3 linked regions of the Homo sapiens genome follow. The protein of the gene in region 3 interacts with the protein of the main gene of each other region in a pairwise test. Each region holds a gene or a part of one and is shown on either strand. Other genes may lie near its edges.

Region 1 (3,744 bases), on a different chromosome or scaffold from region 3:
CACACACACACACACACACACACACGACAGCCCAACATCCTCATGCATATATATTCTTCTGCATGTACTATGCACCCCAATGGATACACACACACACTATTAAGTGCAATGTTTGCCCACACCAATCTGTATACTCACCACAGCCTATAGGCAATACAGCCCAGCCCACACCAGCACACACTCACCCATCTACTTCACCCCTAGCTGCCTGTACACATGCCCTAGGGTACTCACAGACACACACACACACTCCTCTCCTCACCACACACCCCACGGATGCCCCCGAGAAACCTCAGCACATTCTCCTGACCCCACGCACCACACTCACCTCACCAAGGCCCACAACACGGACCCACCGCCATGGCCACGTATGTTCCCTAAACACACATCGCTCCTAGACATCACCCTCGGCAGGTGCATCCTCTGACTCAGACATGAACCTCACAACTCGGATACAACCTTTCCTCTCGGCTGCACCCCCCACACACAGCGAGCGTGCCCGGTGGAAGCACTGAACCTTCTGCTTCCGGCCACCACTGATCTCGGGAGGGGACACCCAGCAGAGGCTCCGCAAGCGGCCCATGAAGGCCTGAGCATCAGGTCCCAGGGGAGCCGCTGAGCGTTCCCAGGGCACTCTAGAGACCTCTGCCTGCTGCTGCTGAGGGCCTGCCCCAGGCCAGGTGCTGGGAGCATGTTATTTATGCAGCCTCCTTTAAGCATCACAACTGCCCAGGGTTTTATCATCCCCATTCCACAGATGCAGGAACTGAGGCAGGGGTTAGAATCCAGGCATGAGGCCTCTGTCTCTGAAACCCTTGTCCTGGACATTCCTGAGCCACCCCCAGACCCATTGCTTGTCCAGGGCTAAATTCATACATCTGTGCCCCGCAGCTGCCCTCACCCCCTGCATGACATCAACTCGGCAATGCCCACAGCTGTCCATGCCCACCCAACATCCACACCCACGCGCCAGCACACGATGGTGATAAGACTATGCAGCTCATAGCATTGCAGGAGAAGGGGCTGAGCACGGGACCCAACACACCAGGCACTCCCAACACCCTGCCTCCACATGTGCGCAGCCTACTTGTCCCTCCCTGAACCTGCCCCAGCAGACATACATCCCGCCTCACATGCCATTAACAGGTCCACAATACCTGCATCTCAGTTCCCTCCACACACACATGCGCGCAAACACGCACTTTCCTTCCGGGTACACACAAGTGCACACACACATCGGGATGAAATGTGGCACCCTTCCTAGTGGACTGATGCCCCCTGCTTCCATTTTTCCTCACAGTCCCCTAGTCACCACACCTTCCTGAAGTAACCCACAGCCTCACTCCACAGAGGCACCTCAGGCTCCCAGCCCAGAAGGGACCAGGCCCAGCAGTGACCCACAGGCCCCCTCACTCCACATCCACTCCCACCGATCCTCTCCTAGAGTTTTAGAGCAGCAGCTGGGGAGGCTCCCCTGGGCCAGGGGCAAGGAGGTGCCACCTCCCAGGTTGCCCAGCCCCCTCCCTCCCAGGAGCACCCCATCAGGGCTGTGATGGGTGAGGGTCCAAATGAGCTGGATGTCAGCTAAGTCTCCTCACTTTCACGGCTACCTCTACCCACCCACTCATCACTCACTCTGAGTGCAGGGGACACGTTCAGGAAGGCCAGTGCATCCCTCCCACCCCATCCTCTCTCAGAGCCCACTCCAGAATTTGGGGTCTCTCGTGCCCAGCCCCACACCACCATGAGCCTTCCTAGAGAAACCGGTCAGCACAGAGGCAAAGCATAATGAACCAGCTCCTCTTTACTACCCGGTTGGCTGTCAGGCAAGCCATTTAATCTCAGCACCTCAGTTTTCTCATCTGTAAAATGGAGATGATGAGAAGACTACGCAGCTCATAGCATTGCTGTGGGAAGGGGCTAAGCACAGGACCCGACACCAAGTGAAAAATGAATAAATCAGTGTAGCCACGATTGCTGTTAGTTTATGTTAAAATTTCTATTATTATTTCGAAGCCTTTATCTCATGTAAGCCTCAACCTCCTCATGAGGGAAGCCAAATTGGGATGACTACACCCAGGCAGATGAGACGATTAATGCCCGGAGAGGTTAAGTGGCATTGCCAAGGCCACACAGCAGGGGAGAGTGCAGAGAGAGACAAAAAGAGAGAGGTTGGATGAAGGGGGAGAAAGGGCAAGTTACAGAAACAGACACAAGCACACAAATTAGGTCAGCAGGCTGGGGGCCAGGAGCCCGGCACCCCTGTGCAGCGCTAATCATGTTGCAAAAAGCCAAGAATAAAATCGAGTGTAATTAGTTCTGCCCGAGCTTCCTTCCCCTAATTAGCCAGACTCAGGCCTCACTTTCCTGGTGACCAGAGGCGACATGAGCAAGGGGTGGGGGCCCAGCTTTAGGTTCTGACAGTCTTGGATTCAAATTCAGCTCTGCTTACTTGCTGGGTGACTTTGGATGTGTTACTTAACCTCTCTGAGCCTGTTTGGTTAAATGAGGCCAACAATGATACTTCATAGGGCAGTTGTGAGAATCAAGTGAGATCATGCCTGCACACAGTCGGAGCCGTATAAGGCTTTGTCTATATTCCTACAGCCTGCACTTCCCACCTCAGGCTGCAACTTCAAGGCTACACTGGGCCTGAGGGATCACTGAGTTCAACTCTCCCCTTTTACCGATGTGGAAACTGAGGCACAGAGAGGGGAAAGCCTTGCTTATCACGAAAGGAGGGGGCGGGGTTAGTCTGCCACGAAGCATTCAGAGAGGTAAAGTGATTTGCCCAAAGACACACAGCGACGTAACTACTAGCTCCTCGAGGCAGGGAGGGAGGGTGTCTCAGCATGGCCCTCTGGATCCCTGCAGGCTCCGTCCCCAAAAAGCCCTCAGTCCTGTGAGAACTCAGTGCCCCTCACGCTCACCAGATCCACCCCGGAGACCCAGAGCATCACCGCAGGAATGTGGGCTGGGGCCAAGCTCCGGGCAGCAAGACAGCCAAGGGGGCTGCACAATTGGGAGCCGGGACCAGGAGGGGGATGTCTCAGTCCCCACCCCCACCCAGCCACAGCTGCCCTGGCCAGGAAGCCGGCAGTCCCACACCCACTTGTGGCTGGAGATGAGGGGCACGAGGACTGCACCTGCTGGGGAAGGGGCTATGGAGCCCAAGTCCCAGAGAGCAGAAGCCCGGGGAGGAGTGGAATGGGGAGGGCAGAGAAGGCCAAGCTGAAACACCACAGACCCCCCCCAAGAAAAATCCACCAAGCCCAGACACACACCCTCCCACTCGCCCCAACTCACACACTCAAGCCTCTCACAAACCAAACCTATCCCCACCCCCTACTCCCATCTACAAAGGCAGCTCAGAGGGCAGGAAATGTTCCCTTTGGGCCTGTCCCATCCCAGTCAACTCCTCTGCAAAGATATCATGGCAGCAGAGCCCTCCCTACCCCAAGCCTGTATCTCTCCTGTCACCTCCAGTCTGCCCTCTACCCAGCCCTGTGTTCCCACCATCCCCCCAGGATGCCCTTTTTCCCACTGTGGCACCTGCCTCCACCCACATCCCCACCCCAGCCCCAACAGGAGAGCAGGTAGCAGCCCTGGCTCAGGCGCCCACAGCCTCCAAGACCGTGGACAAATCCTCTTCCCCCTTCTCTGCCTTTCCTTTGCCCCATTTGCAAAATGGAAAACCAAGCATGGTGGTCTAAGGGCCTTTCTGATTCTGACACTCTGGACTCC
Region 2 (3,744 bases), on a different chromosome or scaffold from region 3:
TGCAGCGAACCCCTGGCAAATTAAGTATAAAACTCGTTGCCTGATCGACAGAGAAGGTTGTTCACCCCCCAAAAATAAACTGCAGCTCTTCCGCAGGAGCAGCGCGGGCAAGCGAAATGAATCTGCTGGGCTAACCCCGCGTTGACTCCGAGCTGTAAATCAGGGGCCCGCGCACCAACTTTCATTAATTACTCGGAGCCAGTTAAATGGCCTGGTCTTAAAAATGGGAAGAGTAATTACCGAGTAATGTTATCTGTCTGGGGCTACCCGACCTGACACCATGACACCCAAGGGAAAGCTGGTGAGGGGGAAAACAAGGGCCCCTTCCAGTTGGGCCTTCAGATGGCGACCCTGCGCTCTCCTCCTCCTCCCCCCTATGGGACCCACCTTGCGCCCAGGGGTCCGACCCTGACCACTGCTGTAGGAGCCAACTTCCTCACTCCCCAGGCTGGACAACCAATTTCCTTTAGAGTGTGCCTGACACTGTATCTCCCTTTCCCTCCATGGTAGTGCTTCGGTCCTTTGCCTCAGTTTCCCCCTAGGGAAATCCTAGCATTCCCCCCCCCCCCCAAAGTGAGAAAAAGAGCGTGGAGCCTCAGTTGGAAAACATAGTCTTTTATAATTTTTGTTATTAAATTGCTTTAAACTTATACCCCACAAGCTTCTGGAAAGCTGTTGCTGCCTCTGGGGAAAAGGATCCTTCGGCTAAAGATACGTCATTGGCCCCGGAACCCAAGGATGGGGTCTCATTCCTCTACAAGTTCCGGAGTCTGTGGCCTGAAGTCCAGACACAATGGCTAAGGAGAGCTGCTCCTATGGGATCCTGGCAGGGCCACCCCAGCAGCCTCAGATCCTCCTGGCCCAGGACTGCCCTGGGTCTCCAAACTTCACAAAATTCTCAGGAGTAAATTGGGTCAAACAGCACCCATTCTCCCACTCTTGCACTATTTGACCAAAGTGCCTCCAAAGACTTAAGCAGGACTCAGCCGATGAGCAGGACCCAGGGCATCGTTACCTCCATTTTCGAAACACACACGGACGCTCATGCACACACACCACCACCCCCCGCCCAGAAAAAAAAAAAAAGAAAAAGAAAAAAAAAAAGCTTCTCTGGGGCAACAGAGGCATGAGCCTGGAGGGTGGTGTGGCAGAGTGCAAGGGAGGGAAGGAGGGGGCAAATCCTAACTCCCGGATAGTACAGGTCCAGGCTTAAGTCTCACACACTGCTCAGCACCACACACTGGGGATTTGAGAAGCCACTAGCTTTTATCATATGACCTCGAGGGCCTCCATTTCTCTCCTGCTAAGTGGGCAAAGATAACCCCCGGCCCCGTTAGCTCTCCTGCATGGGCGAGCACGTTTGGGCTTCCACAGACTTCCTTTTGAAACCTGAGGCCTGGCCTTCTTTGAGGCCTATAGATGAGCTTACAAACGAAATTTGGCTCAGGGCACCCACTATTGCCCGGAGTGAAGGCCGAATTTCTGAAAGGACACTAAAAAGAGAGAGAGAGAAAGAGAGACAGACACAGAGAGAGAGAGAGAGAGGGAGGGAGAGAGAGAGAGAGAGAGAGAGAGAGAGAGAGAGACGAAATAGAAGCTACGAAGAAGTTTTCTCTAGACGAACCCTTCTCCATTCCTGAGCCCAGGAGTAGGCAGGGACCCAGGGCACTGCACAATCCTCAGAGCCCTGCTCCGCAACTGTCCGTGCCCGGCGAGGGCCGTGGGTCCCGAGTCGCGGCACCCACTCTCGAGACGTCCGTCCGCACCCCAGAACTCGGGCCCAAGGATGCCCGTGGCCCGCGAGCCCTCCTAGGCCTCCTCCCAGACCGGACACGCAGACCTCGGCGGGCAAAGACCGGCCTCAAACCCTCTCCTTCAGGTCCCCCCGGGAGGGGCAGTGGTGAAAGCGCCTGCGGAGCGGAGGGAGGTCTCTTTTAATTAGAAGCTTATCGGACACGGGTTTGATTAGAGCGCGCTGTCCCTGGGCCCAGCGCTTGGCCTGGCGCGGAGAGTGCGGGGGCAGGGGCCAGGGGAGGTAAAGCTGCCGGCTGGAAGGAGCAGCGTGTTCAAAGGCTCCTTGTACAGGCCTTGGAGGGAGAGAATCGAGTGGCCAAGGTAGCGCCTTTCCCACGGTTAGTCCCGGCCCGGGAGGGGAGCGCAACCTTGACCGTGCGCTAAGAGGCGAGACGCGCTCTGTGCCCTCCTCCCCCGCCGGCGGCTGCAGAGAAGCCGGGAACCGCCTGGCCTGGCCGGGCCGTGAGAGCTGAGGGGTGAAATGGACAGCAGGCTCAGCCAGGAAGGTGCTCAGAAGGCTGAAAACGATGACTGCAGCTGCACTGTGATTGGGGAAAACCTGTCCCCCAACAAAATACCCTCTCCTGTGTGACCGGAAGAGGGAGCCTTTGGCCCTCGGGCGTCGCAGGCCTCCGCACCTGACCCTAGGGTGGCCTGATGATCCCAGGCCTAATCATGCCTTAGGGTTCTGCGAGCCTGCGGGGCTGCGGGATCAGTGGACTAGCAGGCAACCTCTTTTTTTTTTTTTTTTTTCCGAGACGGAGTTTCGCTCTGTCGCCCAGGCTGCAGTGCAGTGGCGCGATCTCAGCTCACTTCAACCTCAGCCTCCCGGGTTCAAACGATTCTTGTGCCTCAGCCTCCCGAGTAGCTGGGATTATAGGCGCCCGTCACCAAGCCCGGCCAATTTTTTTTTTTGTATTTTCAGTAGAGACAGGGTTTCACCGTGTTGGCCAGGCTGGTCTCAAACTCCTGACCTCAGGTGATCCAACCGCCTCGAGCCACCGCGTCCGGCCCAAGCAAGCTTTTTTCCCCTCCTCCTTAAGCCTTGCATCTAGTCTGGGGCTACTCAAGTCCTCACCCCACATCTGCCCTCACAAACCCGTCAACCCCCACACATGGACTAAGAGTTTGGTGCCCCTCCCGCAGGCCAGAAGAAATCCATCTCAACGGTGGGGCCAAGATCCCTGGAAAAGGAGTAGAAACACCCTAGCATGGTCTGGGTTCAAATCCCACCTCTGCCACCTAATCTCATAGAACCTGGATTTCCTCATCCAAAACAAGGGGCCTCTCCAGGATTAGCTGGTGAGCTTCTTGCAAAGGTTCTCGAGGCCATTGTCTTAATTAATATTCAGAACCCAGTGCCTGACCAAGTAGGCGATTGATGTTTGCTAAATTAATGTTTACAAGATTAGGATGCAAGATATAATATTTAAGAATTTAAAATATGAACATGCTTGTGAAGTTTTGGGCGGTTGTGAGTGGGTACCAACAATTGCCCCTGCCTGTGCACCATGGCTAGACTGCCCTAGGGATCCAGAGACGGCCTTGATTCCTCTCCCCTGGGGTTTGGCCTTGGCGCTCTGATGGCCATTTCCACATTTTTGAGAGTTGATGCCCTTGCCTCTCACAGCCCAAGTCTTGGGCCAGGCCCTGCATTCCTGGGGAAGCAGCAGGAACCCTGGAAATCCAAAGAATAAACCCAGAATCTCGAGGGCCACCCTTGCCCACTCCAGGATAGCAGCCGGAGCGCTTCTCACATCCAAGCTGCCCAATGAGCCTCAAGGGCTGGGTAAGATGGACCCATCTGTTTTCACTGCAAGACAAAACTTAAACCTGGAGATGGTGCTTCCAGGCTATATGACTTGAATCTAGGGCCCTCTCTCCATTGGGCTTTTTCTCCAGGGTGGAGAAGAAGGATACATTCACCTACTAGTCCTGGTCCCCTTTTAA
Region 3 (3,676 bases):
GAGGGTTCCTCACATAAGGCAAAAGAAAACACACCTGTCTTAGAGGCCTCAAAAATGCCCACAAATACTTTCCAAGGACAAAGGTGGTTACTCAGCTGCAAACAGTGAAGCACACAAGGAAACGACACCATGAGCGAGAACTGGTGGAAATGACAGAAAGCTGAAATGGACCCACAGAGACTTCAGGCATTGGGATGACCGTGCACAGATATTTGAAATAAGAGATCAGCTCTAAAATGTCTTCCAGGAATGAGAAATATTTATTTTATTTAATAAGAGAGGGCTGGTGAGAAGATGATGAGTGGGGGTCAGACAGGCAGAGGAAGGAGAGAGGGGGAGGAGCTGAGCCCAGGGAGAGGCCGGGCCGGGTGGGTGTGGGGGATTCACAGAGAAGCACCCCCGGGGCCTGGAGACGCTGAGGCTGGCAGGAGAACCCCACAACAGCAGACCCCGCACAGCGGGAAGTCAGGACTGCCTCCGCCCCTGGTGCTGTCAGCCTGGATGCAGCTCAAGGCCAGAGTCCCGAAGCTCCCACCCCACGCGGCACGTTGAAGTTCTTCCCACAGGGTTTGCCAGATATGCAAAAAAGACCTCTGAGAGGGCACATTGGTGACTTTATTTGTTGACAGACTGATCACTCACATGGGGCAGGACACAGTGACCACCGGCTGGCCAGCATGGAGATGAGGGTGTGGGAGAGATGCATGCCTGGAGGGAATCGGCATGAAAGCTCAGCATTGCTGGCTGGAGGTGCAGTGGCTATGGGCAGAGGAGACTCAGACAGGGCTCAGGGCTGCAAGGATTTTCGGAAGTCAGAGATGGCCCTGGAACAACTCTGGAGAAACGGGACCTGCCCGTCAGCAGCTGGACTTCTGGCCTGAGGAGAGGCCGCAGCACGCGGAAGAGAGGCGGGAGCACGTGGGGCGGCAGAGGAGGGACACGCAGGAGGCCGGGCGGCAGCAGCTGGGCTGGCAGGTGGAGGCAGGGGCACAGCAGGAGGGGATGGGCACACAGCAGGTGGACCTGCACACGGGGCGGCAGAGGAGGGACACGGAGGAGGAGGGTCTGCAGCAGGAGGTGGTGCAGCAAGCCGGCTGGCGGCTAGACTGCTGGCAGCATGAAGAGGAAGCCCCAGAGCAGACGGGCACACAGCAGATGGGCTTGCAGCAGACAGGCTTGCAGCAGACGGGCACACAGCAGACTGGCTTGCAGCAGACAGGCACGCAGCAGGCCTGCTGGCAGGGGGAGGATGTGCAGCAAGCTGGCTGGCAGCTAGACTGCTGGCAGCACGAGGGCGTGCAGGAGCTGGTGCAGCCTGACTGGCAGGGGCTGGGCTCACAGGCCGCCTGGCAGCAGGGGCTGGACACACAGCTCACTGGGGTGCAGACCAGGGTCAGGCAGGGGGCCGGGGCGCAGCAGCTGGTGGCGCAGCAGGGGGGCTCACAGCAGCTCTCTGGGCAGGCGTCCACCTGCCAGGAGTCAGAGTAAGCGCTGGAGCAGACGGACATGGTAGACGTGGCCATGCTGGGGTGGGGAGGAGGTGAGCTGGGGGAGACGTGAGTGAGTGAGTGTGGGAGTGAGTGAGGGAGTGAGTGAGTGATCGTGCCAGGCCTCTGAGTGGTCGGAACCTTTATACCCCTCTGTGTTGATTGTGCTGCCCCTGCCTGGCTTCGAGAAGCCTTCCTCTTCCTTGTTGTTGTTGTAGGCACTGTTGTGTTAGTAGTGTTGGTTCATTGTTTGTGGATGTTCTGGTTTGTGAGGCTCCTGACTGGAGTTAGGGCTTCCCTAATGTGGGCTTGTCCACAGAGATAAACTAGTAGAAATATATTGATTGCATCAAAGCACACTGCAGAAGCAGGGACAGTGGCAGTTAGGAGATATTCTGGAATTGACAGCCCTCTGCTCCATCCCAGGAGGAGTTTGCACTTAAAAAAAGACTTCTACACCTAAGGAGGGATGAGGTTAGGAGAACCTCAGTTTCTGGGCCTTGAGGAAAGGGAGAGATGTGTTCTGCTGTGGACAAGTTTGAAGATGCTCAGTTGGCCTGGCCACACGGCGAGATCCACCCTGTGGGTTGACACTGCTGGTTGTCAGTGGGAACCATGGGGCATATTTCTGCTGGGGGTGAGCCCTGGGGCAGGTGTGAGGGAATAGTGTCTTCCTGGGCAGAGATTGGCTCGCAGAGGGGAGCAGGGAGGCAGCTGCAGGCCCAGCACAGTAGGGATGGAGATGAGGGGCAAGCACCTTTGTTTCATTTCACGTTGAACTGTTATGGGGCCTTCCCCCGGTGGTGTGCACAATAGTGTTCACACCTTCTCCTCTCACATCTCGGGCAACATCACCTGCAATGGTGTCCTTGGGAGCTCCAAGGTCTCTTCCCTTATGGGCCAGAAAGTCATCAGAATGTATTAGTTCTACTGTTGGCTCCTGGACATTGTCATAGTAAATGTACAAATAAAAGGGTCTGATTGCAGAGCCTTGTCTCACAAATACCTATACACCTGTGTGTATCAGCCCATGCCTGTGCCCGGGACCATACCTGTGCGCTAGTAAGCCCCCAAAGTTCTGATCATGGATCCCTCATCTCCTCACTCTATGATCGCTATTTTCTACTAAATCTTTGAAATGGCAAAGGCAGAGGCTCTGATGATGCTCTAGGCTGCAGGGCTTTCCAAAATTAGGCCAGGGGTCCACTGAGTGCTTGGTGGGGGCCCATAGGCTGCAGGGTTTGAAGCCTCTGACCTTTGATGAGTATGGCTAAGGGCTCTGTTGGAGGACTACCTGGCAAAGTCAGACTACAGTGGAAAAATATTATTTCATAGAAATAATAGCTGGACACAGACTGGCAAATTGGATGAAGAGTCATGACCCGTCAGTGTGCTGTATTCAGGAGACCCATCTCACTTGCAAAGACACACATAGGCTCAAAATAAAGGAATGGAGGAAAATGTACCAAGCAAATGGAAAGCAACGTAAGCAGGGGTTGCAATCCTAGTCTCTGATAAAACAGACTTTAAGCCAACAAAGATCAAAAAAGACAAAGAAGGGCATTACATAATGATAAAGGGATCAATTCAATGAGAAGAGCTAATTATCCTAAATATATATGCACCAAATATAAAAGCACCCAGTTTCATAAAACAAGCTCTTAGAGACCTACAAAGAGACTTAGACTCCCACACAATAATAGTGGGAAACTTTAACACCCTGCTGTCAATATTAGACAGATCAATGTGACAGAAAATTAACAAGGATATTCAGAACTTGAACTCAGCTCTGGATCAAATGGACCTAATAGACATCTGCAGAACTCTCCACCCCAAATCAACAGAAGATACATTCTTCTCAGTGTCACATGGCACTTATTCTAAAATTGACTTTATAATTGAAAGTAAAACACTCCTCAGCAAATGCAAAAGAACTGAAATCATAACAAAGTCTACCGGACCACAGTGCAATCAAATTAGATCTCAAGATTAAGAAACTCACTCAAAACCACACAACTACATGGAAATTGAACAACCTGCTCCTGAATGACTCCTGGGTAAGTAACGAAATTAAGGCAAAAATCAAGAAGTTATTTGAAACCAATGAGAACAAAGAGACAATGTCCCAGAATCTCTGGAACACAGCTAAAGCAGTGTTAACAGGGAAATTTATAGCACTAAATGTCCAC

What was found.
Region 1: the proteins of KRTAP10-3 (region 3) and SDC3 interact in a two-hybrid assay, tested with the Homo sapiens proteins (3 studies listed by BioGRID).
Region 2: the proteins of KRTAP10-3 (region 3) and WT1 interact in a two-hybrid assay, tested with the Homo sapiens proteins (2 studies listed by BioGRID and IntAct).

What each region holds. Positions count from the first base shown.
Region 1 is NC_000001.11:30,881,030-30,884,773, forward strand, and holds part of SDC3 (syndecan-3), read right to left. Parts: intron 1-3,744. UniProt on the Homo sapiens protein: Cell surface proteoglycan that may bear heparan sulfate. May have a role in the organization of cell shape by affecting the actin cytoskeleton, possibly by transferring signals from the cell surface in a sugar-dependent mechanism.
Region 2 is NC_000011.10:32,428,906-32,432,649, forward strand, and holds part of WT1 (Wilms tumor protein), read right to left. Parts: intron 1,909-3,744; exon of another isoform or gene 1,635-1,908; coding exon of another isoform or gene 1,625-1,634; intron 1-1,624. UniProt on the Homo sapiens protein: Transcription factor that plays an important role in cellular development and cell survival. Recognizes and binds to the DNA sequence 5'-GCG(T/G)GGGCG-3'. Regulates the expression of numerous target genes, including EPO.
Region 3 is NC_000021.9:44,557,193-44,560,868, forward strand, and holds KRTAP10-3 (keratin-associated protein 10-3), read right to left. Parts: upstream 1,604-3,676; 5' UTR 1,524-1,603; coding exon 858-1,523; 3' UTR 598-857; downstream 1-597. UniProt on the Homo sapiens protein: In the hair cortex, hair keratin intermediate filaments are embedded in an interfilamentous matrix, consisting of hair keratin-associated proteins (KRTAP), which are essential for the formation of a rigid and resistant hair shaft through their extensive disulfide bond cross-linking with abundant cysteine residues of hair keratins.